Linked DNA regions of Homo sapiens. The protein of the gene in region 2 purifies or fractionates together with the protein of the main gene of each other region. This does not show direct contact. Each region holds a gene or a part of one and is shown on either strand. Other genes may lie near its edges. The genes, in order: ENDOU, PRXL2A, SCEL, ALDH3A1, DSG3 and AKR1C2.

Region 1 (5,392 bases), on a different chromosome or scaffold from region 2:
ATCAGTGAGGAAACTGAAACCTAATTTGGACCAGGGTTGGGGTTAGTTAGGTTAAGAACTACAGTTAGGATTTGGGCTTGAGTTAAATTAGTTGATAAATTAACAATTTTGTATTGATATTTGGGTAAGGAATAGGAATAGACTTAAGATGACATTCGGGGTTGAGGAATGTGTCAGGATGAGAAAAAGATGAATAATCCCTGTTTTGTTTGGGGGCTTGGTTCTGGTTATGATTCAATACAGGTGTAGTATCTTAATTTAAGCCTGGAGTGGGTTAGAGCTTAAATATTAGAGGTTGGGTTTGGTTACCAGTCCCTAGTATTGGATTCTGGGATTAAGGTTGATACTTTGTCTAATGAGGGACAGCATAGCAGAGAGGTCAAGAACCTAGACTCTGGCGCCAAACTGCTTGAGGCTGGAATTCTGGTTCTACTGCTTTCTAGCTATGTGATCTTGGGCAAGTTATTTGAACTTCTGTGCGTTGGTTTTCGTATCTGTAAAAGTGGGATGATAATGGAGCCTATCTCATAGAATATTTGTAAGAATTAAATGAGTTAATATATGTAAAGCACTTAGGACAGCAAGTGACACATAGTAGTACCATAGAAGTATTTGTTAGGTGAATAAACGGTGGCAATATTTCATGCCCATCTTCCAAGTGACAAGTGTTCAGACTGGCTGGAGCAGTCTTCCCTGTGTTGTGGCCCCGTCGACACACTTAATCTAGCTGACACTCTCCCAGGGTTTCAACAGGGCCATCCCTTGGGCTGGGTTGTCAGCACATCTGTGTTGCTGGTTTCCTGGCTGACTTCATCACTACAGGTCTGTATTCTTTACATCAGAGAGGCATTGGGTCAAGGTTAACCCGGGTCCTCAGACAACTTCACATTGTCAGGCCTCCAAGGTGGGCAGGAAGGCAGGTTTCCAGTCCCTAAAAGAGACCAGGCCCAAGGCCACTTGTTCCTTCAAGCCGGCAGGAACTCCTCTTGAATGTTAAATGATGCTCCCTTGGAGCCTGAATGCAAAGACCTTAAGGAGAAATTTTCAGCCCATCAGCTCCCTGCTCAGTCAGCCTGGCAGTACACCCAGAATCCAAAGGGAGAGAATTCAGGCAAATCAGGGCAATGTTTTTAATGGGCCAAATCAGCAGAGTCCAGGGAAAGAATTCACTTCATTCCAGCAGCTGGCACCAGTTGAGAAGGGTTGCAAGCGAGCAGTCAGCTGGACGTGCAGGAGAGCACCCCCGCCGGCCCAAGCTGAGTGGGCTTTTTCATCTCTGCTCAAGAACTTTGTCTCCAGCAAGAGCCCCATGCCAGCACTTTCTCACATTTCTCTGTGCACTTAGTCTGCTTCAAGGTGACCTTGGGATTTGACAGTGGAGTGCAGGGGTGGGAGGAACTTTTCCTCATAGGCACTTTGCTGTGACATTCTGGGGACACTCTGATGAGTAACTAGTCACCCTAACAACTCACTCCAGCATCCCCACACTGCACCATTAACACCAACACTCTGAGTAAGCCTTGCTCCCCAAGCCAGGTGCCTGAATCACTGCTGTAGTAACCTGTGCCTCTTGTTCCTCTGCCTCACCTCTCTGACTCTCTGCCTTTCTTCATCTGAGCCTTTCCTCTCTCGGGTTCAGATTCTCCCTCCATTCCCCCAAGAAATGCTCAATTTCTCTGCACTTTCTAAGACTTCAATATGCCAGAACAGCCACTCCCTATCCATACTGGCCATCAAGGAAGCTTGGTCCCAAGCCTGGGTGGACACAGTGTCCCTGTACACTGGTGCTCAGCCCCTCTGATGACTGGGACATCCTACACATCTGTACCGTTAGAAGGCCCCAGATGCTGTTTCCATGGAGACCTAGTCAACCAAGAAGCCTCACCCCTTGGACTAGCTTCCTGCCTCCATTCACAACCAAAAAAATCAACCAAGGTTCTCCACAGACATCCAGCTCATAAAGGAGGACCTGAGGCTGTCAGTGATTCCCCATGTGATTCATATTCTTGCCTCTCAGTTCTGAGATGTTGGGATAGTATCAACAAGTGCAGAGCCTCTTCCCTGCCACCTTAGGAAGCCTCATACACTTGACCTCACTTCCCCATCGATCCCACAGCCAAAGCAGATACTGCCCTCCGACCTAGCAGCAAGAGCTCCACCTGCACTTCTAAAGCCACTGCTACCTCTGCCCCCCAGGGACCAAATATCCAGAGTTGCTCTCCTTCCCTAAGGCTGGAATATGCCAAGCCCGCTGGCCACCCCTACACATTAAGCCCCCAAGTTCCACCTTCCTCCCAACCAACAGGGCTGAGGCTGGTGGCTCCCAGGCCCACCCTCATGCTCTCCCACTGCCTCTCCACCCACTAGGGCCCAGGCAGAGCTGGTTTCTGGTAAGATGCACTATCTCATCCATGGTTGGGAGGCACAACTTCCTCTTCCAGGGGTTTTCCACTTAGAAATCCCATAAGGGTCTCCTTTCCACAACCCAGTTGGAAATGACCCCAAGCGGAAGTTTCTCCCAAGAAAATTTATAGTCATAATCATAGCGAATTTCCAGTTCACTGAGATCTCACTTTGCACCAGGTGCTTCTCATACATTATTTCATTTAATCCTTTCCACAGTCCTACACAGGAGCAACCCAGTGGAAGGATTCTTTCTCCTGTGGGCAGAGGAGGATTCTCCCCACACTCCTCAGCTCAGCCCCTCCCTTGGCACTCCTTCCCACCCACCCACTAGCTACCAATTAACCCATCAGCACCAGCATTTTGCACAGTTACTAAACAGGAACATGGTCCTGTTCCTCTGCCAGTCCCATCCCCTGGACCTCTCATAACTGTGGGCCAGGTCCCTTCTGTATTCTTCAATTCTCCTAACACTGCAACAGAGATCCATTCCTCTGACCCCTGTACAGCCCCAGATAGGACGAGGCCCACCTCCTGGTCAAAGGTCCTTTCAGTTTCCTCCTAAGCCTGCCCACCTCCTAAGGCTCTACCCAAAGTAACATCACACCCTAAACAACCTCACCTGTCACCAGGCAGTGGAAGGAGTGACCAAGGGCAGCCAGGCCACTCAGACCCCATGGACACCAGCCCTAGCTTTATTCCTTACAGTGGCCCCAGACAACAAAATCTTGGGGAGATCAAAAGTCAGGCTGGACTAAGGGATATTTGGGGCTGATCCTCCAAGGTGTCAAGAAGGGAATTCCATGAAATCAGACCATCAGCCCTGCAACTCTCTCCACATAGTCCAGTCCATTCCGGGACCAACGCCTGCACCCTCAGACAAGGACAACCCAAAAGTGCTCTGCGGCTTTAGGACAGAGCTCACCCTCCCTTGTCCCACGGCCCTGCCCTCTACCAAGTTCTCCAACTCTCTGCTTCTTTAGGCAAGATCCCGCCCCACCAGCAATCCCATGCCCGCCAGATAGTGACTTACCAGCCCAGGCCAGGCCACACAGCACGGCCAATACCAGGGAGATGCAGGCCCTCATGGTGCCCAGTTGGAGGCCAAAAAGGGAGTGGCTGTTGGACTTTCACTAGAGTCAGATGAATGTCACAGCTCTCAGACGAGCCTTATTCCTCAAGCTGATCCTTTTAAAGACACCAGGACTTGTGGAGCTGGTGTCTCCAGATCCTTTCAGGAAGAAAAAGGGGAGGGAGGGACCCTAGATGGATAGGAGGTGGGGCCCTACAGCTGTTTGAAGCCTGAGGGAAGGTGACTAAGAAGGTAGGTAATGCCAGATGTTGAGAACAGGTAATGCTAGCTGTTTGCAGCTTAAAAAATAGGTCATGCAGGCAGGCACACCAAGATGGGTCCAGTTTGGAGGGTTCTTTGTCCAAATTAGGGACACCCATGGGCTGATCTTTGGGTGATCCCCACCAAACAGACACCTACTTCCAAGTCTCAGACCTGACTTTCCAAGGGGCCACAGGTTGGATTCATCTTCAAATTCCTGGAGCTTAGCATGACACTGGCACACAGTAAGGTGATTGGTCCAAATTTGACAAACAGTAAGTGCCCAAGCAAGGGTTGGGGTCATTGGACAGAGAGATAGAGGATGTGTCGGTCAGAACCAGTGCTATTCTTATGACCACCAAGCCCAGCATAGCTAAATCAGCCACATGTCGAGCGCATGGCTAAATCACTCTAAAATATTATGCAAATGACTCTTACTGAGTCAGCCTCTGGGGTTTAAACGTTTCAGATTCCTTATGAGGCAGGGGAGGGGCAAGAGGCCTCTTAAAGGCAGCCGAAGGCCCACTCTTCTTCCCCTGGGAGCCCAGGGTTTCACTCCCTTCACCCCAACTTACACTCCTCTCCTCAGGAACTCCTCCCCAGTGAGGTTCTTTTGTTTCCAAGTCCAAAAGAAGGGGAGCAGCTCCCCGTGACTGTCCAGTTTTCCCCGATAATAAAGGTAAAATCTGCCAAGTATGATGCCCTTGCCAGAAAGAGCACTGCATGGGGATTCTCAACCCTCTCAGGAAAGAAAACTATCATATAAAAAGGCAAAATTGGTGAACAGTGGAGGCCACTCTATCAGTGATTTTTTTCTGGAGGTTGGGAGTGGAGCACGTCTTCATCCAGTGTGCTTTAACAGGAGAAGTTTCTTCCTCTCGCTGGTCTTCAGCTTTCTCATCTGAAATGATGGGGTTGGATCTGACAATCCCTTCCAGGTTCTCAGACTTTAATCTCGAGTTTTCCTGCCCATGCGCCAGGTTGAACAGTTGCTGGTGGGTTAAAGAGAATCCCCCAGCCTGTTGCTGTGTAGAGAGGAGTCCAAACATAGGGACTCAGGGGTAGAGAGAAGGACAAGCCTAGGGCAAGCAAACTTTGCAAGGGGCTCACACAGGAAGTGCAATGTATGTATATATTTTGAGATGGAATCTCTCTCTCTGTCGCCCAGGCTGGAGTGCAGCAGTGTGATCTCGGCTCACTGCAACCTCCATCTCCCCAGCTCAAGCAATTCTCATGCCTCAGCCTCCCGAGTAGCTGGGATTATAGGCATGCACCACCACACCTGGCTAATTTTTGTATTTTTAGTAGAGACCATGTTGGCCAACCTGATCTCAAACTCTTGACCTCAGGTGATCTGCCCACCTTGGCCTCCCAAAGTGCTGGGATTACAGGTGTGAGCCACTGCATCCAGCCCGGAAGCACAACTAAAGAGTGAGCCTAGCCCTTCTCTCCCAGAAGGGAGCTGGTTAGAATGAGTAAGAGCAGAAATGGCTGCTTCATTTGCATAGATTTCATTTACACAATCCAAAAGCAGGCTGAAGAGTCACTGCCCCTCAGAATCCTCATCCTCCCTGGGTTGGCACCACATAAACGTGTCTCTGACTCCTGTTGTTTAGGGGACAAAGGAGGGTGTCACTGGCTGGCCTGGGAAGCAAT
Region 2 (3,865 bases):
GATTGCCCTTGTCATGCTTTATCACTTCTGACTTCCTGCTTCTAGAGCTGCTGGTACAGGCCAGATGGATGTGGCCTTCTCCGGTCTATCTTCCCTCAAAGACTGAACTCCTTGAGGGCAGGAGCCAGGCCATATTTGGATCTGTGTCCTTTGCTATTCAAGCAAAAGGCTTGACAGACAGCTGGTCCTCGATGCCTGTCTCATGAACGAACGATTTAGGATGAGGACTGACATTATCTCTTGTTTCCTTTTAGGGCATTCTTCTTGAGCACCGAGAAAAAGAATTTGGAGACAAAGTAAACCTACTTTCTGTTCTGGAAGCTGCTAAGATGATCAAACCACAGACTTTGGCCTCAGAGAAAAAATGATTGTGTGAAACTGCCCAGCTCAGGGATAACCAGGGACATTCACCTGTGTTCATGGGATGTATTGTTTCCACTCGTGTCCCTAAGGAGTGAGAAACCCATTTATACTCTACTCTCAGTATGGATTATTAATGTATTTTAATATTCTGTTTAGGCCCACTAAGGCAAAATAGCCCCAAAACAAGACTGACAAAAATCTGAAAAACTAATGAGGATTATTAAGCTAAAACCTGGGAAATAGGAGGCTTAAAATTGACTGCCAGGCTGGGTGCAGTGGCTCACACCTGTAATCCCAGCACTTTGGGAGGCCAAGGTGAGCAAGTCACTTGAGGTCGGGAGTTCGAGACCAGCCTGAGCAACATGGCGAAACCCCGTCTCTACTAAAAATACAAAAATCACCCGGGTGTGGTGGCAGGCACCTGTAGTCCCAGCTACCCGGGAGGCTGAGGCAGGAGAATCACTTGAACCTGGGAGGTGGAGGTTGCGGTGAGCTGAGATCACACCACTGTATTCCAGCCTGGGTGACTGAGACTCTAACTAAAAAAAAAAAAAAAAAAAAATTGATTGCTGTGCCTCATTACAAATGCATATGATGTTTGAGTGCTGTTGTTTGAAATTATTTTTCTTTTCGGGTCTTCAAAAATTCAAGAAAAGTTGATGATTGACTTGAAGATTACAAAATTTAAGGTTTTTTGGCATGTGTGTTTTCTATTAATAATTGGTTATATGATGTCAAAGTAATACTTTCATAATAGAATTGACATGCTCTGGGATAGTTTGACAAAGGTAAATTATAAAGTGAAATCTCTTGTTTCATTATCTTCCATTCTAACCTCAGAGATCTGTTTCTCTAGAAAAAATGTCCATCTCTGGCTTTAATAAAATTATGCATCAGAAATCACCTGTATGTATAAGATTTTCTGATAAAACTAATAATTATATTTACCATATAATTGGCTGAAAGTAAAAAAAGTCAGCATTCTCCATGGCTGAGGGGTAAAGTGCCTCGGGGGATTCCTCTGGTTCTAGCTATCTAAGTGGTTTGAAAATGACCAGGAAAAATTCATCCTGTCATTCACGTTAGTAATTTTGCTGTCTTTCCTAGAGGAATGACTTTGGTGTTTAAAATTGGTAGCTGTTTTTCTATTGGTCTTTTAGCCTAATTTGGCAAATCAGAAGAAAGGACATAGAGATGATGAAATATAACTTTATCTTTTTTGTTTGAATTTTGTCGTGTAAGTTTGAGTGACATCATCAAGACCTACCAGGGAGCTCGGCCACAGGGAGTCTACTCAAGGCATCAAACTGGCCCAGGAGTAGAAAGGTGGGGGTGGAAATAGGAAATAGTGTTTACCCAGGGGACTGGCCCAGCCAGGAGGAGAAAGGAATCAGTGTTTACCCAGGAAAGCAAGAATGGATACTGATGTTGGAGGTAAAGCTGGGAAAGTAGGAGAGCATCGGGATTGAGTATGCAGAGTGAGTTAGGGTTGAGTGGTTCGGGACTAAGACCCACTAAGACCATGCCTGCACCTGACTTCATGTAGCAGTGGTTGCATGGGGTATGCATGGGCCCTTAAAGGGCTGGGCTTCTGCAGCATTTGAGGCCATAGCCTTTGGTACTTGCACAGGGTTGGTACCTGTCATCCTTGGGACTCCAGCTACTGATAGGATAACTCAGTACCTAAACTTAGAACTTTAATACCTAAGACACTTGATGGTGAAACAGTTCTCTTGCAACTAAAGAAGAACCTGAGGTCAGGTGTGGTGGCTCACGCCTGTAATCCTAGCACTTTGGGAAGTCGAGGTAGAAGGATCACTTGAGGTCAGGAGTTCGAGACCAGCCTGGCCAGCATGGTGAAACCCCATCTCTACTAAAAATACAAAATATTAGACAGACGGGGTGGTACATGCCTGTAATCCCAGCTACTTGGGAGGCTGAGGCAGGAGAATCGCTTGAACCCAGGAGGCAGAGGTTGCAGTGAGCCGAGATCGTGCCACTGCACTCCAGCTTGGGCAACAAGAGCGAAACTCCATATCAAAAAAAAAAACCTGAGAGGACATTGCACCAATGGAGATGCATCAAGAGAAACATGTTTGGTTTTTTGTGAGCTCTCACCAACTTTTTTCCCCTGGGTCCTCACGTGCAGTGTGGTCTTCTCTTTCTGATTAGCATGTCATTTTGGAAAGAGCACTGGATTGAGTCATGAGGCATAATCAATTTCTAGTTTACCAGTGTGATCTTAAGCAAAGATCTAACTCATTGGCAAAATGGGCGTGATTCCTTCCCATTCAGGGCTGTTTATGATAAGTCACTGAGGGAATGATAAATATTATGACACTGCTTCTCAGACTGTAATGTACATGCACATCACATAAGGACCTTATTAAAATGGAGACTTAAAAAGCTGGACGCTAAAGGCAATAATGACAGATTTTACTCAATAACTACTGCAGAAGGAGAGAGTCCTCAGTATAGAACTGAGCTTAGCTCCAATCTGTGCAGAGGTGATGGAATTTTAAAGAGGGGAGGGAGGAGGTTCAAATAGAACTAGGGAAGTGCAAAATTACAAAAAGCTGGTAAGGAGATTGGTCAATGTGATTCGGCTATCTGTGTCTACTAACTCTCAAATTTATTTATCAAAGTTAGGATCCTAGCCTCCCACAGAGACCAGGAGTCGGCCTTATCATTCCTGATAATTATATGACAAAGGGATGGCTCCCAGAAAAAGTGAGAAACACATTCCTGTGCAGCAGAAGATACATATATCCCCCAAAGGGACAGAAAGGATTTACAATTGTAAATTTTATAAAGTATGTCCTCTAAGAAGAGGGAGGGACTGGGTGCCATGGCTCATGCCTATAATCCCAGCACTTTGGGTGGCCAAGGTGGGTGCATCACCTGAGGTCAGGAGTTCAAGAGCAGCCTGGCCAACATGGTGAAACCCTGTCTCTACTAAAAATACAAAAGTTAGCCTGTTGTGGTGGCGCGCACCTGTAATCCCAGCTACTCGGGTGGCTGAGGCAGGAGAATCGCTTGAACCCAGGAGGCGGAGGGTGCAGTGAGCCGGGATCACGCCACTGCACTTCAGCCTGGGTGACAGAGTGTGACTCCATCTCAAGAAAAACGAGGGAGATTAGAAACCTATGATCAGGCATTGGCTGAAACAAATGGTAAATTCTTTTGGCAGCCTTGAGCTTCCCCAGGCAGGGACCCAAAGGGGCCTGGGTTATCCCTGAGACAGGGCCTTGAGCTGCTAGAAACTATGCTAGTGTTTGTTCAAGTCTCTCCGTGTCCGGGGTGAGCAAAATTGTTTGTGCTGAAAATCAATGATTTGCAGCTCTCAAGATTCCAGTGGGCAGTCTGGGTGGGCCTGAGTTTCTGCTTTTTTTTTTTCTTTATGTACAGGGTCTTGCTCTGTCACCTAGGCTAGAGTGTAATTAGTGGCCCCAGTCATGGCTCACTGCAGCTGCAAACTGGCTGCAAGCTGTTCTGGCTCAGC
Region 3 (4,833 bases), on a different chromosome or scaffold from region 2:
TGGAGTCCATGAAGTGACTCAGGGACCTAAGTTCTTTCTATATTTTAATGCCGCCATATTTATGCTGCCATGCATACCAAAGCCATAGTAGAAGGGGGAATAAATAACAAGGAAGACCACCAGGAGGTTTTACAATGGGTCTGGAAGTGGCAGATAACGTATCTGCCCACACTCTTTAGTCTAGAGCTCAATCACATGGCCCCAACTTAATTGCAATGAAGGTTGGAAAATGTGGTCTCCCTGATTGCTCAGAAAGAAAAGAAAATGTGTTTTGCAAACACATAATATTGTTTATGCCACAAACCTTAAAAAAAAAGCCAAGTAGTTCATTGATGCCTTTTACTGACATAGGAAGTACTGTCATTGACAAGATATATCATTAGAAAATAATGAAAATGAAAATAGAGTTAAATGCTCAATGAGTCAGAAAGACAAACAGGCAAAAGGCATAACACTTAAAATTTCAGGCTGGGTGCCTTGGCTCACACGTGTAATCTCAGCACTTTAGGAGGTGGAGGCGGATGGGTTACCTGAGGTTAGGAGTTCGAGACCAGTGTGGCCAACATGGTGAAACCTCTTCTCTACTAAAAATACAACAATTAACTGGGCGTAGGGGTGCGTGCCTGTAGTTCCAGCTGCTCAGGAGGCTGAGGCAGTAGAATAGCTTGAACCCTGCGGGCAGAGGTTGCAGTGAGCTGAGATCACACTACTGCACTCCCGCCTGGGCAACAGAGCAAGACTCCATCTCAAAAAATAAAATAAAATTTCAAACTATATTAAAACAACCTCATAAGTAGATTTTGTCATAAGTGGTTTCTTTTTATTTAAAAATTTTCTAAAATGTAACACTTGAAAAATAGTTCTCTTTACTAGAGAAAGGCTATGTTGTTAAGCTATTCTAGCATGAAAATGGTCTGAAAGGAGTTTGATAATTTAAATATTTATCCAGACTTTTGTCTTGTTTCTTTATAAAGGATCTCAGACAGAAATGATGCTGCTAAAACATATAAGGCCAATACCTTGGATAACCAACTAACCAATAGGTACCAGTATCTACTAACTATGGGAAAGGCTCAAGTATAATATTTTTCTAAGTGTTACCTATGTACTTGCAATTCTTCAATCCTACTTGATATCTTTCTGTAAATTCTTAGTCTCTATCATTACTCCTGTTCATGGCTAGAATAAAACCTTGTTGTTTAGCTTAAGAATCAAGAGCACTTGTAGCTCCAAATCACCATTCTTACCACATTTATGTTTCTGTTTAAGTTGTCCTGGTGGCAAAATTATGAAATAGGTGCAAATGCAAATTTTACATTATTATTGTTAAGGAAAATTACTGAACCCAACAAATAAAAATATTGGGCTTAAAAGATACTAAATTTTCAGAAGAAAAAAAATTCTTTGGAATCTAGTACAAGAGACAAAATCATGAAATCATCTTATGAAATTTATTAAAATATGATGCTTTCTATTTCTTTCTCTCACCAGTGTCTAACTTTTAAAACTCTAAATTCAGGAATAATTCCAAATAGATGCAAATGTTCATTCTTCATTGTTCAAACTTTGCTTTCTTTCTCTCTTACCAGGAGCATGTCCATGTTTAGATCACTGGAAGTAACAAAGTTGTATGTATTCTTTCTAATTGTAGTATATTTCTTTTTATGTATTCAAGAAAAACCAGGGAAAACCACCTCAGGCCAATTTTATTGGAATACAGCCATGCCCCTATTGCTCTGGCAGAGTTGAGTAGTAGAAGACAATACCAAAATGGTCTGTAAAGGTTCAAATGTGACTATCTGGACTTTTGCAGAAAAAAAAGATTGCCAATCATTACTCTATCCAAACACCAAAGCTTAGATCATCCTTTCTTTCTTCTTCTTTATTAAAATCTAGACTCCTTATTTTTTCCCCTACAGGACTTTTCTTCCCTCTACTCTCACAATAATTAACCCTTCCTCCACACCTCACTTCCTTCCCCACCCACCCTTCACATCTATGCCTCCTCCTTCAGAGAAAATTGAATTGGGAAAACATGGGGTGAGCTAAAAATCTATTTAAATGGAACACATTTTCCCTGGAATGTACTACTGATGGTTATAAGCAGCCCAAATCAGACAGATTTATAAACTTACTTTATTTTTGAATTCCTATTTATGTATAAAGTAATTTATACACTGGATCACACCTCTCAGTGCTTGAAATGGGCCTGGGTCACTTCCATTTTTGAGGCTCTGCATATATGAATAAATGCCAGATAGAGACTTAAGATGGTATGATTTAAAATTTTTTATTAAGCAATAATGCTTCTAATGCAAAAAACCGCAACATAATTAGTTAGTCACAATATAATCACAGGAATAAAAGAAATGTGAATCTGTAGCACGCCAGAATTGATTTGTCTGAATTTCCGACAGTTAATGTCATTTTATGAATCACTTCTTTATTCTATTCCTTTAGTTTTAGCTAGTTCTATGAGAACCTGACAACTTCTAAAATATGTCAACTAAGGAAGAAGATTTTTGGCTGTTTTTCTATCCCCAAGTGAAACATTTTATGAACAGAGAGCAGGCAGGAATATGAGTAGAATTTAAGACTTTTCAAAGGTAGGCTGAAATGAAAAAGTTTGAGAGTGGGATTAATTGTTGTTCTTGTCATTAAACAGGCAACCTGGCGGTTCATTGAATGCCAACACCTCCAACACCATAGCATCCACTTCTGCTACTACTCCTGTAAAGAAGAAGAGGTAGGATGAACTCACTGTGTCTACCTCTTGCTGATACACTATGAAAGACTGCATTAGAAAGCTTCCTCCTCTTTTTTGTGGGGATCCAGCATCTACATTCTGCTGTTCCCAAACTTCAGCTCTTTCCCCCAGCAATCTCTTTCTCAAATATAGAGTCTTGTTTTCAATTCCTGTAGGGCCTTGAATTTCTAGGAAATGTTTTAGATGATAGAGCTCGCATGTTAAATGACAGACTACTTGAGGTAGCATGTTTCATGGAGTCCTGCTGCTGGGAATGCCTTAACCTGAAATAATGATGAATGTAGGGCCACATGCTGCCATGCTCCTGAAACCGGCCTGTATCTGGAGATGCCGCCTCTGCTCTGTGGATTGGGCTGGCCTTGCTTCCAAATGCAGAGTCAAAGACCCTTTCTGGAGACATCCATCTGTATTTGTTTGGTTCTTGCCTCCTCCACCGACCTCCTCTGCATGGTCTCCCACATTCTGCTGGTGCTGAGTCCTATGTAATTAGCAGGTACAGAGGAGTAGTTGGACCAATGGTGACCAAATATTCTTCATGAGACAGAACATGATGGTGAAAGAGATGTTTGCATGTTGAAAAAACCCCAGGGCTATGAATTGTGATGCAAATGGAAAACAAGCATTTACAAACATCAGTGCTTTTAAATTTTCTCAATTTCCCTGTCTGTACCTGGGTCCATGCTCTGTACAGGGTAGGTGCTCAATGTTTGTTGATGGACTGGCTGACTTTGCCATGGTGCTGCTGGAGAAAAATGACTGATTCTGTTTTTTCCTTCAACAAAATTCTGGCTGTAGCTGCAAAGTCTTAGAAAATGTGATTCATCTTTCCATTGAACCCAAATTTCATGTCCCTTGACCCTTTGCCTAGTAAAAACAGATTCCTAAGTTTGAAAGAGAAATTTTAGGTCAGTCAGTTCCATCTCCTATCTAGTGCAAGAATCTTTCCTCCGACATTTTGGGCATAATTCGGGACCACTGAAGCCATCAATAAGATTCTCACTATTTTGGGACACATCTTTGACTTGCTCTCCTGGGTAGCATCTATTCCTTACATTGAGCTGGAATCTGCCTTGATTGACTCGTTCCTTGTCTTAGTTGAGTTCTGCAGCGGCTCAGAGAATAGACCTACTTAAACAATTTAAATCCAGCTTTCCTGTCTGCCTTTTCTTCTGTAGTGCATATCATTCTCATCTGAATATCTTCAGTTTTCATCCATATCTTGATCTTTCTGCTTAGCAATTGCTACCAACTAAAATTATGACCTAGTGATGTGAGGACATCTTTCTAATTGAGGTTAGAACTGAAGGTAGTGCTGCTATAATATTCACTTACGCTTTCAATATTTTTACTTGTCAGAGTTTTCTATCAGTTTCTTTTCTTTTTCTTTTTTCTTTTTCTTTTTTTTTGGAGTGTGCAGTGGTGCAATTTCGGCTCACTGCAACCTCTGCCTCCCAGGTTTAACCAATTATTTGCCTCAGCCTCCCGAGTAGTTGGGAGTACAGGCACATGCCACCACGACCAGCTAATTTTTGTATTTTTAGTAGAGATGGGGTTTCACCATTTTTGCCAGGCTGGTCTTGAGCTCCTGACCTCGTGATCCACCCGCCTCAGCCTCCCAAAGTGCTGGGATTACAGGTGTGAGGCCCTGCGCCTAGCTCGCTCACAGTTTTTTAAAAATTGTATTTTGAGGCCGGGCGCGGTGGCTCAAGCCTGTAATCCCAGCACTTTGGGAGGCCGAGGCGGGTGGATCACGAGGTCAGGAGATCGAGACCATCCTGGCTAACACGGTGAAACCTCGTCCCAGCAACTCGGAGGCTGAGGCAGCAGAATCGCGGAGGGCGGAGCTTGCAGTGAGCCGAGATCGCGCCACTGCACTCCAGCCTGGGAGACAGCGAGACTACATCTCAAAAAAAAAAAAAAAAATTATATTTTGAAGCTGGGCGCAGTGGCTCATGCCTGTAATCCCAGCACTTTCAGAGGCCGAGGCAGGTGGATCACCTGAGGTCGGGAGTTCGAGACCAGCCTGACCAACATGGAGAAACCCCATCTCTACTAAAAATTACAAA
Region 4 (4,833 bases), on a different chromosome or scaffold from region 2:
AGTCTAACCAGCCCCCAGAACACCCAGCTTCAGACTCCCCTTGCCAGACCCTGTCCTGGCTCCTCAGGCCTCTGGGGCGGGACTCTGGGCCAGCTGCAGCCCAACGCCATGCAGTTGAGGCACCGTGGGTGCTGGTGCTGCCTGGCCTCGGGTCCTTTGCCCCCACGAGCAGCACTATGACATCACCAGGGCGTTTTGTGTTGACTACTGCATCGTCTCACAAAGTGGCCCCTGCCCGAGATAGTGAAGCTAGTCTGGGAAGAGACGGCATCAGCTCCCCATATCTGAGCCACTGTGCCGACAAGGCCCAGCCTCCTCAGGCTCTCCTTGGCTGGACACACCAGAGATGGAGCTGACCTCCCCAAGTCTAAAAGGAAGACAAGTGTCACCCTGACACCGTGCATGGCCTCCTGGCACAAGGCCCCACCAGCTGATGAGAGGCCTTTGCTGGTACATCAGTGACCACACTGCGTGGGGCAGTGGGATCAGGCAGGACAGGTCGGTGGGTGCAGGGCTACAAAAGAAGTGCCATATGCCTGCATTTGCTGAGTTAGAAAATTGTATTCGTCTCTTTATTGGTCTAGAAAGGGGTGGAGACTTGGAATGGTGAGGCCTGGGCCCATGTGGGAGTGGGGTGTGCACAGGTCAGCAGGTCAGCAGAGGAGTGGGGCTGGGCTGGGGCTGCAGGAGCGATTCTCCCAGGGCCAGGAGAGCCAGTGAGGGTGGTCCGCACTCCGATGGGACACAGTATGGCCAGGCCAGGCGGAGCAACCCCTCCTCAGTGCTGGGTCATCTGTGAAAGGGACACGGAGTGGGCAGTGATCCCCAGGCCCTGGTCCCGCACAGCCCGGTCTCCCCCACAGCGCCTTCCCCCTCTCACCTTGGCCGGGCTCGGGGGGTATCTGACCTTCAGGCCTTCATCATTCATCAGAGGCCTCACCAGGCAAGAGCGGCGGTGAGAGAAAGTCTCGAAGCTCTTCTTGCCATGGTAGGATCCCATGCCGCTGTTCCCTGCGGAGGAGAAGTAAGCACAGGGCTCAGCATCCTGCCCCCAGGACGCCCCAGGTTTCCCTCTCCACCTTGTTGGGTGTATCCCAGAACCACAGGGACAGGGAGGCAGAGCCCCAGCCACCATCACCCATCCTTCCCTCAAATCCTATGGCCCTCAGCACCCAGCCCCAGGTTGTGGCCCTTTTCTGGGCCTCCTGAGGGTGGCCAATGTCTAGGGTGTCCCCAGGGCATCCACACTGTGGGAGTGCCCAGCAAGGGTCTAATCCCAGCTCTGCCACTAAATGGCTGTGTGACCTCTGGCCTGGGTCACCTTTCTCAGGCCTCCATGAAATAGGCCGGTGCACCAGGTGACCTCTAGGAACCTCTAGGCTCCCAGGTTAAGTGTGTCTGATGGATGGCACGCAGAGGCCAAGGTCCAAATGGAAGAGGCTAATGGGAGGCTGCCGCCCGGGCTGCAGGAGGTGGTCCCTCCTGAATTTGCTGGGTGAGTGTGCCCAGCCCTGGGGCCCAGAGGGAGGCAGCAAGCTCAGCCCCAGACTCACCCACGCCCCCGAAGGGCAGAGAGTGCAAGGTGATGTGGACGATGACATCGTTGGCCGCCACCCCACCACTGGATGTCTCTGCAATCATCTTCTTAATCACCTGCACCAGGACCCAGCCACTGGCCTCAGTCTCCTGCCCACAGGATGCCCCAGCCCCCAACCCGACCCTGCCTGGGTATAGCCTGGAGCCACAAGGACAGGAGCAGGTGGAGGCAGAGCCTTAGCCTCCATCTCCTGCTCTTCCTGCAGACCGCGTGGCTGTCAGCACCACATGAGCAAAGAGTGACAGCAGCCGCCCCCATGCCTGTGTGCAGGGCCCTGGGCAAGGATCGCTCATTCAGTGCCCTCAGGTGATGCTGCTGTCCTGATCTTACAGACGAGGTGAAAGGAGCTCAGAAAGATCCAGTGACTTGCCCAAGGTCACACAGCCAGAGAACAGTGAAGCTGCAGTTTGAACCCAGGTCTGTGGGCCCCAGGACCCTGGCAGAGGGCACCCCAGGCCCACCACCCACCTTGTCGTTGCTGGAGAACATGTAGAGGGCCAGGGGCTTCTCACGCTGGTTGATGAACTGGATGGCCTCCTCCAGGCTGCGCACGCACACGATGGGCAGCACAGGCCCGAAGATCTCCTCTTGCATCACCGGGGACTGGGGGTCCACGTCCGTGAGGATGGTGGGGGCTGAGGCAGGAAACAAGCCAGAGTTGGACGGCGCAGAGACCCCCACGCGGATGGAAAGTGCAAGCACCTAGACCCCTGCTCCAACCCTTTTCCAGGCAAACCTGCCCAGGCTTGGAAAAGGGCAGGGACGAGGCCTCAGAGAGGTACCCTAGGCACCTGCGTCCTGGATGCCATCTGAGCAGACCACTGGGGACAACTATAGGTTAACCTGTACGGAAGGACCCGAGATCTGTCTCCAGGAGCAGGCACTGCACCTGCCGGCCACCTGATGCCCTGCCAGAATTCTCTTGTCTCCTTGACAAACTCGGGGCCAAGAGGGTCCCATCTGGTGACCCACAGCCTGGGCACTGGGGGCCCCTCACGGCTGGGCACACCTGGGGCTCCTGTGGCTTCTGCTGTCCCTGCTCCTGCTGCTTCAGAGGGGCAGGGAGATGAGGCCCCTCTTTCTGGGCCTTTGCTGGGAGAGGGGATTCTGAGGTTGAAGCAGGGGCTGTCCTCAGCCCCTGCCTGCTGGAGTCTACCGCAGGCTCCCTGGTGAAAGCAATTTATACCCATCCCGAGGTCGTGTCCGCTTATCAAGCATCTGTGCCCACTTGCTGTGAACTTGCTGGGGACCCCTGCAGCCTGGGCAGGTGGGCTGTGCTCTTCAGGGGTCACGCACCTATGTAGCGAGTGGCGGCATCCCCGGTGCCCCCATAAGCCACCTTCTGGCCCTCAATCAGGCCCATCACCCTCTGGAAGTGCCGGGCACTAATGATTCTTCCATAGTCCCGGGATTTCTTAGCATCTTCCCCGTAGAACTCCTGTGGAGAAGAGGTGGGGGCTTCGGGTAAGGACGCAGAGCCTCGTCCTGCCCAAAGGCTGCACAGACACAGGCCAGCAGTGTCTGTCTTTGGGTGGTGGGATTCTGGGTGGAGCTTTTTTCTTCTTTATGCTTTTTAATCTTTTCTAAATAATCTATAGTGAGTGTGCATTATCTTTTTTTTTTCTCTTAGAGACAGGGTCTTGTTCTGTTGCCCAGGCTGGAGTGCAGTGGTGCAATCATAGCTCACTGCAGCCTCAAACTCCTGGGCCCAAGCAATGCTCCAGCCTCGCCGTAGCCTTCTAAGTAGCTGAGACAACAGGCATGCACCACCATGCCACCATGCTTGGCTAATTTAAAAACATATTTTGTAAAGATGGGATCTTGCTATGTTACCCAGGCTGGTCTCAAACTTCTGGCCTCAAGTGATCCTCCACTCTCTACCTCCCAAAGTGCTGGGATTACCGGTGTGAGCCACCATGCCTAGCTTGCATTATGTTTATATTAGAAGAAAATAAATCCAGTGTTTCCAAATCTGTAGAAGTTGGTTAAGGGGCCAGGCCCCCCTTGTGCCTTACAGCCTCTCATCCCACCCTGCCAAGGGGTCAACACTCACTTTCAGTGACTTCTTGAGCTTCTCCACAATTTGGTTCTGGATCGAGGGGTCACAGAGGATGTAGTCAGGGGCCACGCAGGTCTGGCCACTGTTCATGAATTTCCCCCAGGCGATGCGTCTGTGAGAATCCCAGACTGGACTAAATCCAAAAGGTTCCCCAGGAGTTGCATCTCGTTTTGCAGACCCCTGAGCTCTCTGGTCAGCAGAAGCCATCGGCTGTGACCTTGCCACCAGTGAGTCCTCCCAAGCGGTCTGCTCACTTCTAGACACTGGACCGAGCAGACCCAATGGCCCTGATCATGTTCACCGGCGACTGGTGGGGAATTTCTAGAGGACGTCTGTTGAGGGCAACCTCCGTGCTCCCTGATCACGCCCTTGTCCTGCACAGCCAGGTGTCACTGCTACTCGGGCCCCCCTACATCTCTGGGGCCACAGATGTGGGATATGGAGGTGGTCAGAGCCCTGGCTAGGGTCAGGAGGTGCAGATACGGGTTCTGCCCCAGACCCCGAGCAGCGGTGGCCCTTCTCCCCTCTGGGCCTGCTCTCCAGAACTCAGATTGCCCTGCCCCATCAGAGGGCTGAACCCAGTACAGTTCCTTGTGTCCTGAACGTCCCACAGCTGCTTTTTCTGCAGCCTCTGCTTGGAGTACCACTTCCCCAGTGATGCGCACTCAGCAAACAGAGCTCAGCCTAGACCTCTCCCCCTCCAGGAAGCCTTCTGGGACTCCCCACACGTCTTCTGTGCATGTGGTCCCCACCCCTACCCCCATGTAAGTTTCTGCAAGGACCACTGCTCCATGAGGCAGGGGGTGTCTGTGTTACTCAGAGTGGACCCACAGCATGAGGTGCAGTCATGTGTGCTTGGAAAGCAGAGTAAGGACTGCTGCAGCCAGCAGGCCCGTGCCTCTCACCGGCAGGCCACGTCCAGGTCACAGTTCTTGTCCACGTAGCAGGGACTCTTCCCTCCCAGCTCCAGCGTGACAGGGGTCAGGTGCTTGGCAGCAGCCGTCATGATGATCTTCCCCACCCCCGTGCTGCCCGTGTACAGGATATGGTCGAACCTCTCCTTGAGCAGCTCCGTGGTCTCAGGGACACCCCCATTGATTACTGGGTACAGATCCTTCCATGCAAGGAGAGAGGGGAGGCTCAGCAAAGACCAAGCCCCTCCTCGCTCTTGCAAGTG
Region 5 (4,833 bases), on a different chromosome or scaffold from region 2:
GCAAATGCTTTCTAAGACAGAGAAAAAGTGGGAAAAAATGAATTTTAAGAAAGAGTCAGTTGAACAATATAATACTGTTTGTAGAACTCATTTGGATTATGAATGCCCAAACTAGGTAATCCATAGAAATAAAGGACACTGTCTATTAACAATCTTGTTCAAAACATTATCTGGTGTTTGGACAACAGTATGGTTGACATTACCTCAAAATTGAGCTAGAACCTTTGTCTAGATTCTACAAATCTTGTGGGAGCCTGACATGTGACTGTAACACACATCCCACCTAGAAATATCCCAAGAGTCCTCATCTCAAACAACCCCTCCCTTTCTCCCCTGCCCTGCAGTCTTTCTTCAAACACAATATCACTCTTTGTCTGCTTGGATACTAGGTCAGACCTTGGCACTTACCAGTATTGATACCAAAACTCAATGTGAGATCCATTCTAACCGTGCCTCTCTGCCCACTAATCTTTGGTTATCAAATGAGAGGCAAGCATCCTACTTTTCAAAGTCTTCTTTGTTTTCATAACTATGTTCCTTTTCTGTTCTATGCTTCCTGACATGTCATTCCTCCCATCACTGATCTTCCATCCTATTCTTTTTGCCTCCCCTTTTTTGGGGGTCATTAATTCAGTGGTTCTTCAACTTTTTTAGACAGATAATGTGAATACTCTACCCCTCTCTCAGGAAAATATACACACAGGTATTTGGATATCCTTTATGATACAGGAAATACAAAATGAACTGCTTTGTATTCTTAAAGAAGATGCTAGAAATTCTCACATAAAAGAGATTTGCCCTCAATTGTTTGTTCAGTTGGAGGAATGAGATACTACTTGCTATATGCTCTCATGTTGTGGTTATCTACTCATTCTTCTTTTGTTATTAATTTGTTTATTTTAGAGACGAGGTCTCACTCTGTCACCCAGGCTGGAGTGCAGTGGTGCCATCATAGCTCACTGCAGCTTCTACCTCCTGGGTGCAAGCAATCCTCCCACCTCAGCCTCCCGAGTAGCTGGGATGGCAGGCATGTACCACTGTGCCTGGCTCCCATTCTTCTTTTGATCAGTGACCCGATTTTGACAGCTACCTTAGGTTATCTGTATTATTTTGGCAAAAAACAAACAAACCATTTTTTTCTTGCATTTTAACAAGCTGTAAATAAAAACTGCAAAACTGAAGTATATAATCAAATAAAAAGTTCTCTAATGTAAATAAGATAATCAAGCCACAAAGTTTTTCACCAAATTACCTGAGAAAAGTAGGAGTCCAGAAAATTCATGCTTATCGCCCCATCAGCGTAGTCCTTATTGGTTCCTCCAGTGGAATGCCTTGTTCTCATGGTTCCAGACTGCCCTGAGGAACAGATGCCAACTCCAGTGGCTGCTCCGAATCCTGAAGCAGCTCCTGACACTGTCCCTGTTGCAAAGCCTGCAGCACCTCCAGATTCAGTGGCTGCTCCAAGCTTAGTGGTCATTTCCATTCCTGAAGTGCCTTCCACCGCTGTGCCTCTGGCATACGTATTTGTACAAACTTCTAAAAACAAGGGAGAACATTCTGTAATATCTTATGCTGTTGTTTGTTGCATTTTTATAAAATGGGTCTTGGGTGTCTATAAGCAGTCACCATGCAAACAAGTAAGTGGGAGAAAATACAATTATATGACTAGAGGTGATAACATCCCACAATGTGTTATGTGAGAGTCACAAAGGAGGGCATATAAACGGGTGAAAAAGCTCTAAAAATATACTAATTTTAAAAGTGTACAAAGAAATAAGATTTTCAGTGACAACAGCCAGAAATAGAAAAGACAGGATATTTAGTACACAGTTATGGGAAGCTTCTAATGCAATGCTTGTTTGTTTTCACGAAAAAACATTATAGTTAAGCAGTCCTATGAGCTCAGTATGGAAACCAAAGAGGAAACATACGTAATGTAATCATGCAAATTAGCATGTCTTGGTACCTAAAGAGAATTTAACAAATCATGACTATTCAGCCTGTTACCTTGACATTATGCTTTCATGGAAAGTTACTTTTTTCTAGATAATTCTTTACATAGCTCTTGCTATGTAATTCTAATGGGAAAAGCAGGTGAGGAGTGGAGCATCTGATAAAGGAAGACAGTTACATATTTGGGGAAATCTCATGCGGATTTTGCAGGATGGACACTTGAAAACAATCTATGGAATTAAGCAAAACTTTAATATTAGGCATTAAGTATTATTGTTCTTTTAGTTCACTGAGTAGTTGTGGCACTCAGATAATATTAATGCAATAGCCACTTGGTAAAACCAAAGAAATAAACAAATTCACCTGTATGACCTGTATGACAACATAAGTGATCATGTCCTAGTATGACTGAATGCAGGAATTAGTAATTGAACTGAAATCAGGATACTGTTAGTTCTGGGGAAGAAAGAAGGGGAACAGGATCAAGGATGTGCACATGAGACTTTAACTGAAAATATGACTAATGTTTGGAAAAGACAAAGTTGGGTGGTGGATACATAGATGTTCGTTATATTTTCCCTTACATTTTTCTATATGTGTGAAGTCTTTCCTAATTAAAAAATTAGTAATTGATTGCCTGAGAACTACACGTCACTAAAGTTTGGAAAAAGTATAACAGATCTTTAGATATTGACAATGGTGGCATCAATGGATAAATTAACTTATTGAAGCCAGACATGTCAGGGAATTGACTAATATAAAAATATTAAAACAGCTTTTCTCCATTTCAGTGGTAACAGCTCCTGACATGTGCACACAGATGCAAATTATTAAGAAGATAGTTTGAACACTTCTTATTTTTTAATATTTACCACTTAACTCACCATTGCTTTCAAACATTTTATGTCCACTTACCAGAACTTTCCATGAAATCGGCTCCATTGGCTGTTACAGGAGGCACACAAATATTTGTGATTTCCTGCAAACCATGTGAAAAATAAATTCATTTAAAAGTGAACCAGATTTCAGAGCAATATAGTGACATGTGGCCCTTTGCAAATTTGTAAATGATAACATTACAAGAAGTGCAAATTCTTTCAGCGATAACCATTTCTGTGATTTGACATCTGAAGAGCTAAAATCCTAAAAGCCTCCATCTATTCAGCACTGACTCTGAAACTGAAGGTCAAGAAATCTCTTTGCCTCTTTTCCTATCTCAATGTAAATCAAACATTTTCTCTATGTAATTGAAATACATAATTTATGAACTGGATGCTTACCTTGTCTTCAGGATGGGCTCCTTCAATTCCCCACTGATGAATTGTTCCTTCTGAGCCATCAGGAACTGGGATAAAACCACCTGTCACTCCCCCAGTAGAACCTGCCCCACAGTCACAGGTCAACAGCAGAAGGGGGGCCACTAGTGAAAAACAAAACAAAACATCAGAACACTTGACTAATTTAGGAACTATTTAATGTGATAATTTTTCAGAAATGTTACAAAGAAAATACAGTATCTTAAATATTTGTAGAAAATTCCTAATGAAAACCAAAATTAGTTTCTACAAATGAAACTTGGTACAGTAAGCACACTAGAATTTCATGTGATTATGAAACTGAAGGAGACAGATCAGATCATTTCTTGTTGTTATTTTTTTGGTATATTTTCTTAAAATAGGCACTGATGTATGAATGAAAGTGGCTGTTTGGCTCCTCAATCCTTTTCCTTAATACATTTTTATGATTATTGCATTTATTTGCACATGTTGGGGCTATGTATATTGTGTCAGGTGAATACACAGATAAATATATGACCAGAATGGTCCAGATTTTAGGTGGGCACGATGGTGTTTTGGTAATCTAGTCTCTAATTATCTCTCAGTAAACAGTAATTAACCAGAAAACTCCCTCAGTAACTAGGGTGATAGCCTAATCAATGGCTGTCAATGCATTCTTAATTGTAATTTAAGAATTTCTTAGTTGTGGCTTAAGCTTGGAGGACTCTTCTGGCAGCGTAAATATCTTTCTGTGCACATCCTTGGCAATAAAGATTAATGTCATTCTCATGTGAACTGACCAAGAGTGAAATACTTATTCTTGAAAGCAGGTGTTTCCCACACTTTGTTGTCAGTGGCCCCACTGCCACCTCTGCCCTGCCAAGGCCACCTGAATCCTAATGTTTCAACTCTCTTCACTTAGAGGCAGCTTAGTGAGGGGTTTAAGCATGCAGCCTCCGAAGTCAGATTCTAGGGTTTAAATTTCGGCTGTACCACTTAACAGCTATGTAATGTTGGGCATGTAATATCATCCTTCTTTGCTCAGTTAACTCATCCATAAAATGGGGGAATAAATAGTATCTACATCATAGGTTGTTATGAGGATTGAATTAATATAGGTAAAGGCCCAACTCCTTAATACTATTTTTTTAGGGTTTAAGTTTCAACATATGAATTTTTTTGGGGGGACACACACATTCAGACCATAACAATTAATCTCCCAATCCTCTCCAGGGGCCACTGTAATGCACTGCACACTTGTCCTTTATTTTCCAGTCTCATGTCACAGCTCGAAATCTGACCTTCATCATCTCTCTTGAACTTTTACAATGACCTCTTAAGTGTTCTTTCCTTTCTAATTTACACTGTTATACTGTACACACTGTTGCCAGGGTTGTCTTTCTAAAATACAAATATGATCATGTTAGTCTTTTATTCAAATGCTTTTAGCAGCTCCTCTTTCTCATAGGATAAAGTACAAACACCACAGCATGTGTATGTAGCCCTTTCAAATTAGTCCCAATGCATTCTCTGTTGCTCCTTCACTTTCCACAATTTCCCCGCGCTTTAGCCTTCGAAGGCTGTGTGATTCCTAAAACAGAAA
Region 6 (5,364 bases), about 75 Mb from region 2:
GCCAGTTTTACTAGTTTGCTCCACCTAATATTTAGACATTTTCTACTACTTCAAAACTAATGACCACAGGCAAAATTATTCTCTCTCTTCTTGTGATGCCTTTTGTTCTGCCATATCATGATGAACTTTATAATATGTTGGATATATAGTTAGTACATATATTGAATGAAAGAGTGAAATTACTCAAAAGGTAAAAGTTGTTATCAAATCATAAGCATACCCATTATCTGAATTATCTTTGGTAAGTTTTACAACTCATATTAGTGGTGTAATTATTTCATCTATTCAGCCCAATGGGCAAGACTAAGTATCTTTGTGGTTTGGAAACTGAGGAGGCAAACACAGTTTTTAATATGTTAACTTGGGCTGGATGCAATTTAAAACAATGTAGGTATCACTCTTTTATACTCACTGAGCTCTCTTATATCGCTTTCTCTCTCTCTCTGATCAAAATGACAATGGAAACTCAGAATCATAACAAATGTAAGAAACTCACCCAGGAGGTAACAGATAACATAATATGATTAAGATTATCTCTCATTCTATAGTCTATGTTAAACCATATTGATCTGTGCTGAGCTCGAAGAGTAAAGGCACTTTGAAGGCATGAATTGGAACACTGCAAAGATGAGAAAGCCATCTTCACTTCCTGCCTTTGATATTAGTTTTAATACATGAGTAAGTGTGAATAAATCGAAATAAATAAGCACAATTCACCCTCAACTATGGATCCAGTCATAGAACTGCCACCTCCACACAATCACAATAAATACATGTGCACACAAGCTCATCATAGGCACAGTACCTTTGAAGTGTAGAATATGTCTTCTCTCTTCACACTGCCATCTGCAATCTTGCTTCGGATGGCCAGTCCAACCTGCTCCTCATTATTGTAAACATGTGCAGAATCAATATGGTGGAACCCGGCTTCTATTGCCAATTTGACGGCCTCTAGAGCTTTACTTTTAGGAACCTGGGGGAGCAACCAAACGTAATATTTTCTGACTAATGTGCCTGAGAGTTAGTTCGGGCACAAGCAGCAACGTTCACAAAAATCAGCTTTTCCTCCTTTCTTGGATGAGCTCTGTATGTAGAATCATAAGCCCATCCCAGTCTGACTGGGTCTTTCCCATTTAGTAATAAAGGTTGGGCATAGCAGGAACTTCTGCAGTCCCAGAAAAATCACTGCTTGACCACTAGCTTGGAAGTGTCCCCAAAACAATTTCACTTTCAGTGATTTTTTGGAAAAATCAACAGGACGCAACTATAGTTACAGACATAATCTTAATTATTTTTAGTATGGTGAAATTAACACAAGGAAATAGCCACATGGAAGGAATTATGAAGGAATGCAGTGTAAGCTCCTGTGATTCCTCTCCCACCATGTTGCACAGAGCGCACTGACTTTATCCAGCATCATATTTTGTCAATGTATGTGAACTGTTGTCTACAAGAGATGCCCTCTACATACTCCATTGCTAAGATTTTGTCTGGGACTGGATACATTGACTCACTCTGCCTAGCAGACACAAATCTTCCAGTCTCCAAAAGCAAAGCAGGTGCACAGAAACCCCACAGTTTACACAAACAGTTACGTAGAGCCACCATTCTTATCAGTTAGGAAACAGGGAGAACTCCACTTTCTCAGATGCCAGCAGGTTTATATTGGAAATAGGCACATCTATGGATAGCAGTCTATTATGTTAGATCTTTTCTACCCAGGTTTTGGCCATTCTGTCTGCATAACAGAACCAAATACTAGGAGTAAAGATGTATACTCTAAGGATATTGATTTGTGTATGTAAGAAATAGGCTGCAGGGAGTAAGTGATTAGCAAAATGGGGTTCAGCTCCATAAATTCAAGGCAACTCTGTCAGGAAACATATGATTGCAGTAAAATTTACAATTATTGACTTATGTAACAAATTTGGATACAGATTTGACAGTATATCTTTTAAATGACAAAAACAGAAACAAAGCAAACTATCTTCCCACCTTGAAAGTATTTCAGAGGCTTTTTCCTGTGAAATTACAAGGAACTAGATACCGGGTCTCACAGCCCTCTCCTCATACCATCTTTGATCTTCTCTTCGCTGTGCAAGCAATCAAAGGCTTACCAAGGCCGGAGCTTCAGTGGTATCCTCATCTTTACTTCCTCTCCATGCCAATTTATATTACAAAATAAACCACTCCTGTCAATGGTCTTCAAAATGTCCCTTTGTAACTCCTTATGTCTTATAGATGAGAAATGTGAGACTCAAATTTTATATAACTAGTTCCTATTCACACACATTGTATTCCCAAGACAGTCTTGAGATACAAGTTTTCTTCCAGTGTAGAAATAGCATTTAGCTATTTCTAAATCTAGAAAATAAAATATATTCCATTAATTTTCTTGTCAGAGAAACAAGAAATTTTTCTGTTACAATATTTTGATACAAATCTGACCCATATTAACAAAGACAAAGAATTTAAACTTTCCTTGTTTGGTTCTAGTTTTTTTTTTTTTTTCTTAAAATGAGGATATTTTATTATTTCAGGTAATTTTCCCAGAGGTGAGAATAGTACATGGGAAATTCTCTTTAGGCCAGGTCTAGTATTACAGTGTGGTGCTCAAGGCCGCCCATCAGAACAGTGATACTCTCCCAACAGATTTCATCCACCCCGTCTCCACTAACTTTTGCCATAAAAATTCCTCTGAATTGTATCTTCTTGGAAGAAGTAAATATCTGTTCGACTATACAAAGAAACAGAGAAACCACTCCCATTGCAATCAATCTTCAAGAGAGGGAGCAGGCAAGCCGTGTTCTTTCTGCTGAGTTTTATAGACTCTGACAAGCTGTGAAATAAACATAAACAGAAGACAAAACAGTGCCACAAATAAGCAGTAGATGACCCTGTGACAAGACGGCATTGCAGAACAAAGACTGACGTTTAAAGGGGAGTCATGCAGAGTAACATAGGAACACAAGCCTGACAACCTGGTCAGCTTCCACTTACTCTAGCTCCTTTGAACTCTCAACACTAAAAATATTATTGTTACCTCTGCAGGCGCATAGGTGCCAAATCCCAGGACAGGCATGAAGTGACCATCATTCAGCTTCACACACTGGTATTTCGAATCCATTTCTGTCACTGGCCTGGTTAGCAAATGTTTCTTCCTCCCTCACAGGCTATAAGAGCAATGAGCTGGCAACGCCCCTGAGCACACTGTCTGCTGGTTAACCAATGGCATGTGAGAGGAGGGACAGAGGCAGTCTTACACAAGCTGTGATAAAAATTGCATCCAGTTCAACCGTTTCTTACCTAAGAAAATTCATAAGTAAATTATTATGTGGTCATGATACACTCATTAATTTCCTCTGAAGTATTTTTGCTATTCCAGATCTCTATATATGAGACATAAATTACTCAAAGAGATTTGTAGAACAAATTGTGACTTTACATAAGAATATAGAAACCTCTAGCGGCACAGCTCTTTTTTGTGTGTGCCATGATGATGAGTTCCTTCTGCATCTTGCAGCATTTGAAATGACTAATTTTCATTTTTCTCTCTCTCACACACACAATTTAAAGGAATGACTAATGAGCATTTCTTTAAAATATTGCCCTCAATTAAAAATTAAAGTTAAAATTTTTAAATGCATGACTTTTTTTCATCAGCAAATTTATTGTTCCTTTCTTATTAGCCTTGTAAGAGAAACATCCCTTCCTGATCAAGGTGCAGTCCTGATAAAGTTGTAATCCTGATGTGGGTGTAAATAAAAAAGAAAATATGATGTGGTTTTATTGGAAGATTTCTTATTAACAGCTTTTGGTCTTTGGATATAATTTGTAACATGCAAACAGTGCCTTATTGGTCTTTTCCAGTCAGTTTTATAAGTTACTACCAAAAAGTAACAAGCCAAAAACCTGATAACTATTAGATATACTTTATAATATTGCTAAACATTATTCATAAAGAAAAACTGGTAACTAATGACATATAAACTGGTGAATAATCCTCACATGGGATAATTTTTACTTTATTCTCCCTTTGGAGGTCAGGTTAAAACAAGATTGTAATTTGCATGATCCATGATTCACATCTTGGAGTAGTCACAACTTGCAGTGCCCTGATTGCTTCTATTTGCTTTCTCATAAAACAAACAGAAATTGAAAAATAGGTAAATTGTTATCATTGACATAAATGTAATATTATAAAGATATTGAAATTTTTCACAGAGTAATTTCAACAAGATGGTGGATTCTAAGATTCCCATATAACTCATGGAAACATCAGAAAATACCTAAAATTGACTGAAATAAACTTATTTATTTCTGGAGTGGCTCAGTAGAGATTCAGGGTGACTATACACATACAGATGTTATAGGCAAAAGGCCAGGGGAAGAGACATGCAATAGTCCATCTAAGCTATTGAGGAGAAACTGGGATGCAAAATTTCATAATAGTAAGCAATTCAAAAGCCATTGGTTATTTGGGGAAATATAAAAGGGCAAACACAGTCCACATAGGTACATGTTCAGAAACAAACTAAGAAGGACTTGAGTTTTACGTAGGGCTGATGCCTTGACTGAGAACCTGCCGCACATATAAGTTAATGACTGTCATGACATAGAACAAATCTATATACAGTAAAAAAGATGTTTATTTTTTCAAATGCCCAGTTAAATAAAATAACAAGGCATACAGGCCAGGCACGGTGGTTCACACCTGTAATCCCAGCACTTTGGGAGGCCAAGGTGAGCAGATCACGAGGTTAGGAGATGGAAACCATCCTGGCCAACATGGTGAAACCCCGTCTCTACTAAAATCCAAAAAAAAATAGATGGACGTGGTGGTGAGCACCTGTAGTCCCAGCTACTCGGTAGGCTAAAGCAGAGGAATCGCTTGAACCCAGGAGGCAGAGGTTGCAGTGAGCCGAGATGGCACCACTGCACTCCATTCTGGTGACAGAGCAAGACTCCAGCTCAAAAAAATAAAATGACAAGGCATACAAAGAAACAAGAAATCACAGTCCATTATGAGGAAGAAATAAATCAGTAGAAATCATTCCTGAAGAATCACAGGCATTAGAATTAGTAGAGAAGCATTTAAACAGCTGTCTTAAATATGCTAAAATTGCTAATGAAAAATATGGATTAAGAACTACAGAAAATCTGAAAAAATAAGAAAATCACAATATAGTATTAATACAGAAATTATAAAAAGAAAAGGAAACAAATTGGAGCTAAAAAATATACCTGAATGAAAAACTCACCAGAGAGTGTTTCAATAGCAAATTTGAGCAGGATGAAGATATAATCAATACACATAGGGATAGCACACTTGAAATTCCTGAGTCTAAGGACATGAAGCAAGAA

The links.
Region 1: the proteins of PRXL2A (region 2) and ENDOU purify together in Homo sapiens (affinity purification with mass spectrometry; one large-scale study listed by BioGRID and IntAct). This does not show direct contact.
Region 3: the proteins of PRXL2A (region 2) and SCEL purify together in Homo sapiens (affinity purification with mass spectrometry; one large-scale study listed by BioGRID and IntAct). This does not show direct contact.
Region 4: the proteins of PRXL2A (region 2) and ALDH3A1 purify together in Homo sapiens (affinity purification with mass spectrometry; one large-scale study listed by BioGRID and IntAct). This does not show direct contact.
Region 5: the proteins of PRXL2A (region 2) and DSG3 purify together in Homo sapiens (affinity purification with mass spectrometry; one large-scale study listed by BioGRID and IntAct). This does not show direct contact.
Region 6: the proteins of PRXL2A (region 2) and AKR1C2 purify together in Homo sapiens (affinity purification with mass spectrometry; one large-scale study listed by BioGRID and IntAct). This does not show direct contact.

What each region holds. Positions count from the first base shown.
Region 1 is NC_000012.12:47,721,923-47,727,314, forward strand, and holds the start of ENDOU (uridylate-specific endoribonuclease isoform 1 precursor), read right to left. Parts: upstream 3,569-5,392; 5' UTR 3,492-3,568; coding exon 3,437-3,491; intron 1-3,436. UniProt on the Homo sapiens protein: Endoribonuclease that cleaves single-stranded RNAs at 5' of uridylates and releases a product with a 2',3'-cyclic phosphate at the 3'-end. The UU and GU sites are more efficiently cleaved than CU and AU sites. Targets mRNAs to regulate their expression.
Region 2 is NC_000010.11:80,431,732-80,435,596, forward strand, and holds part of PRXL2A (peroxiredoxin-like 2A isoform 1 precursor), read left to right. Parts: intron 1-254; coding exon 255-368; 3' UTR 369-3,865. UniProt on the Homo sapiens protein: Involved in redox regulation of the cell. Acts as an antioxidant. Inhibits TNFSF11-induced NFKB1 and JUN activation and osteoclast differentiation. May affect bone resorption and help to maintain bone mass.
Region 3 is NC_000013.11:77,566,706-77,571,538, forward strand, and holds part of SCEL (sciellin), read left to right. Parts: intron 1-974; coding exon 975-1,043; intron 1,044-1,589; coding exon 1,590-1,628; intron 1,629-2,665; coding exon 2,666-2,746; intron 2,747-4,833. UniProt on the Homo sapiens protein: May function in the assembly or regulation of proteins in the cornified envelope. The LIM domain may be involved in homotypic or heterotypic associations and may function to localize sciellin to the cornified envelope.
Region 4 is NC_000017.11:19,737,443-19,742,275, forward strand, and holds the end of ALDH3A1 (aldehyde dehydrogenase, dimeric NADP-preferring), read right to left. Parts: intron 4,771-4,833; coding exon 4,562-4,770; intron 3,769-4,561; coding exon 3,651-3,768; intron 3,036-3,650; coding exon 2,894-3,035; intron 2,233-2,893; coding exon 2,066-2,232; intron 1,654-2,065; coding exon 1,554-1,653; intron 1,012-1,553; coding exon 881-1,011; intron 794-880; coding exon 779-793; 3' UTR 547-778; downstream 1-546. UniProt on the Homo sapiens protein: ALDHs play a major role in the detoxification of alcohol-derived acetaldehyde. They are involved in the metabolism of corticosteroids, biogenic amines, neurotransmitters, and lipid peroxidation.
Region 5 is NC_000018.10:31,470,824-31,475,656, reverse strand, and holds part of DSG3 (desmoglein-3 preproprotein), read right to left. Parts: intron 3,374-4,833; coding exon 3,234-3,373; intron 2,933-3,233; coding exon 2,869-2,932; intron 1,537-2,868; coding exon 1,253-1,536; intron 12-1,252; coding exon 1-11. UniProt on the Homo sapiens protein: A component of desmosome cell-cell junctions which are required for positive regulation of cellular adhesion. Required for adherens and desmosome junction assembly in response to mechanical force in keratinocytes.
Region 6 is NC_000010.11:5,000,709-5,006,072, forward strand, and holds the start of AKR1C2 (aldo-keto reductase family 1 member C2), read right to left. Parts: upstream 3,150-5,364; 5' UTR 3,128-3,149; coding exon 3,044-3,127; intron 974-3,043; coding exon 806-973; intron 1-805. UniProt on the Homo sapiens protein: Cytosolic aldo-keto reductase that catalyzes the NADH and NADPH-dependent reduction of ketosteroids to hydroxysteroids.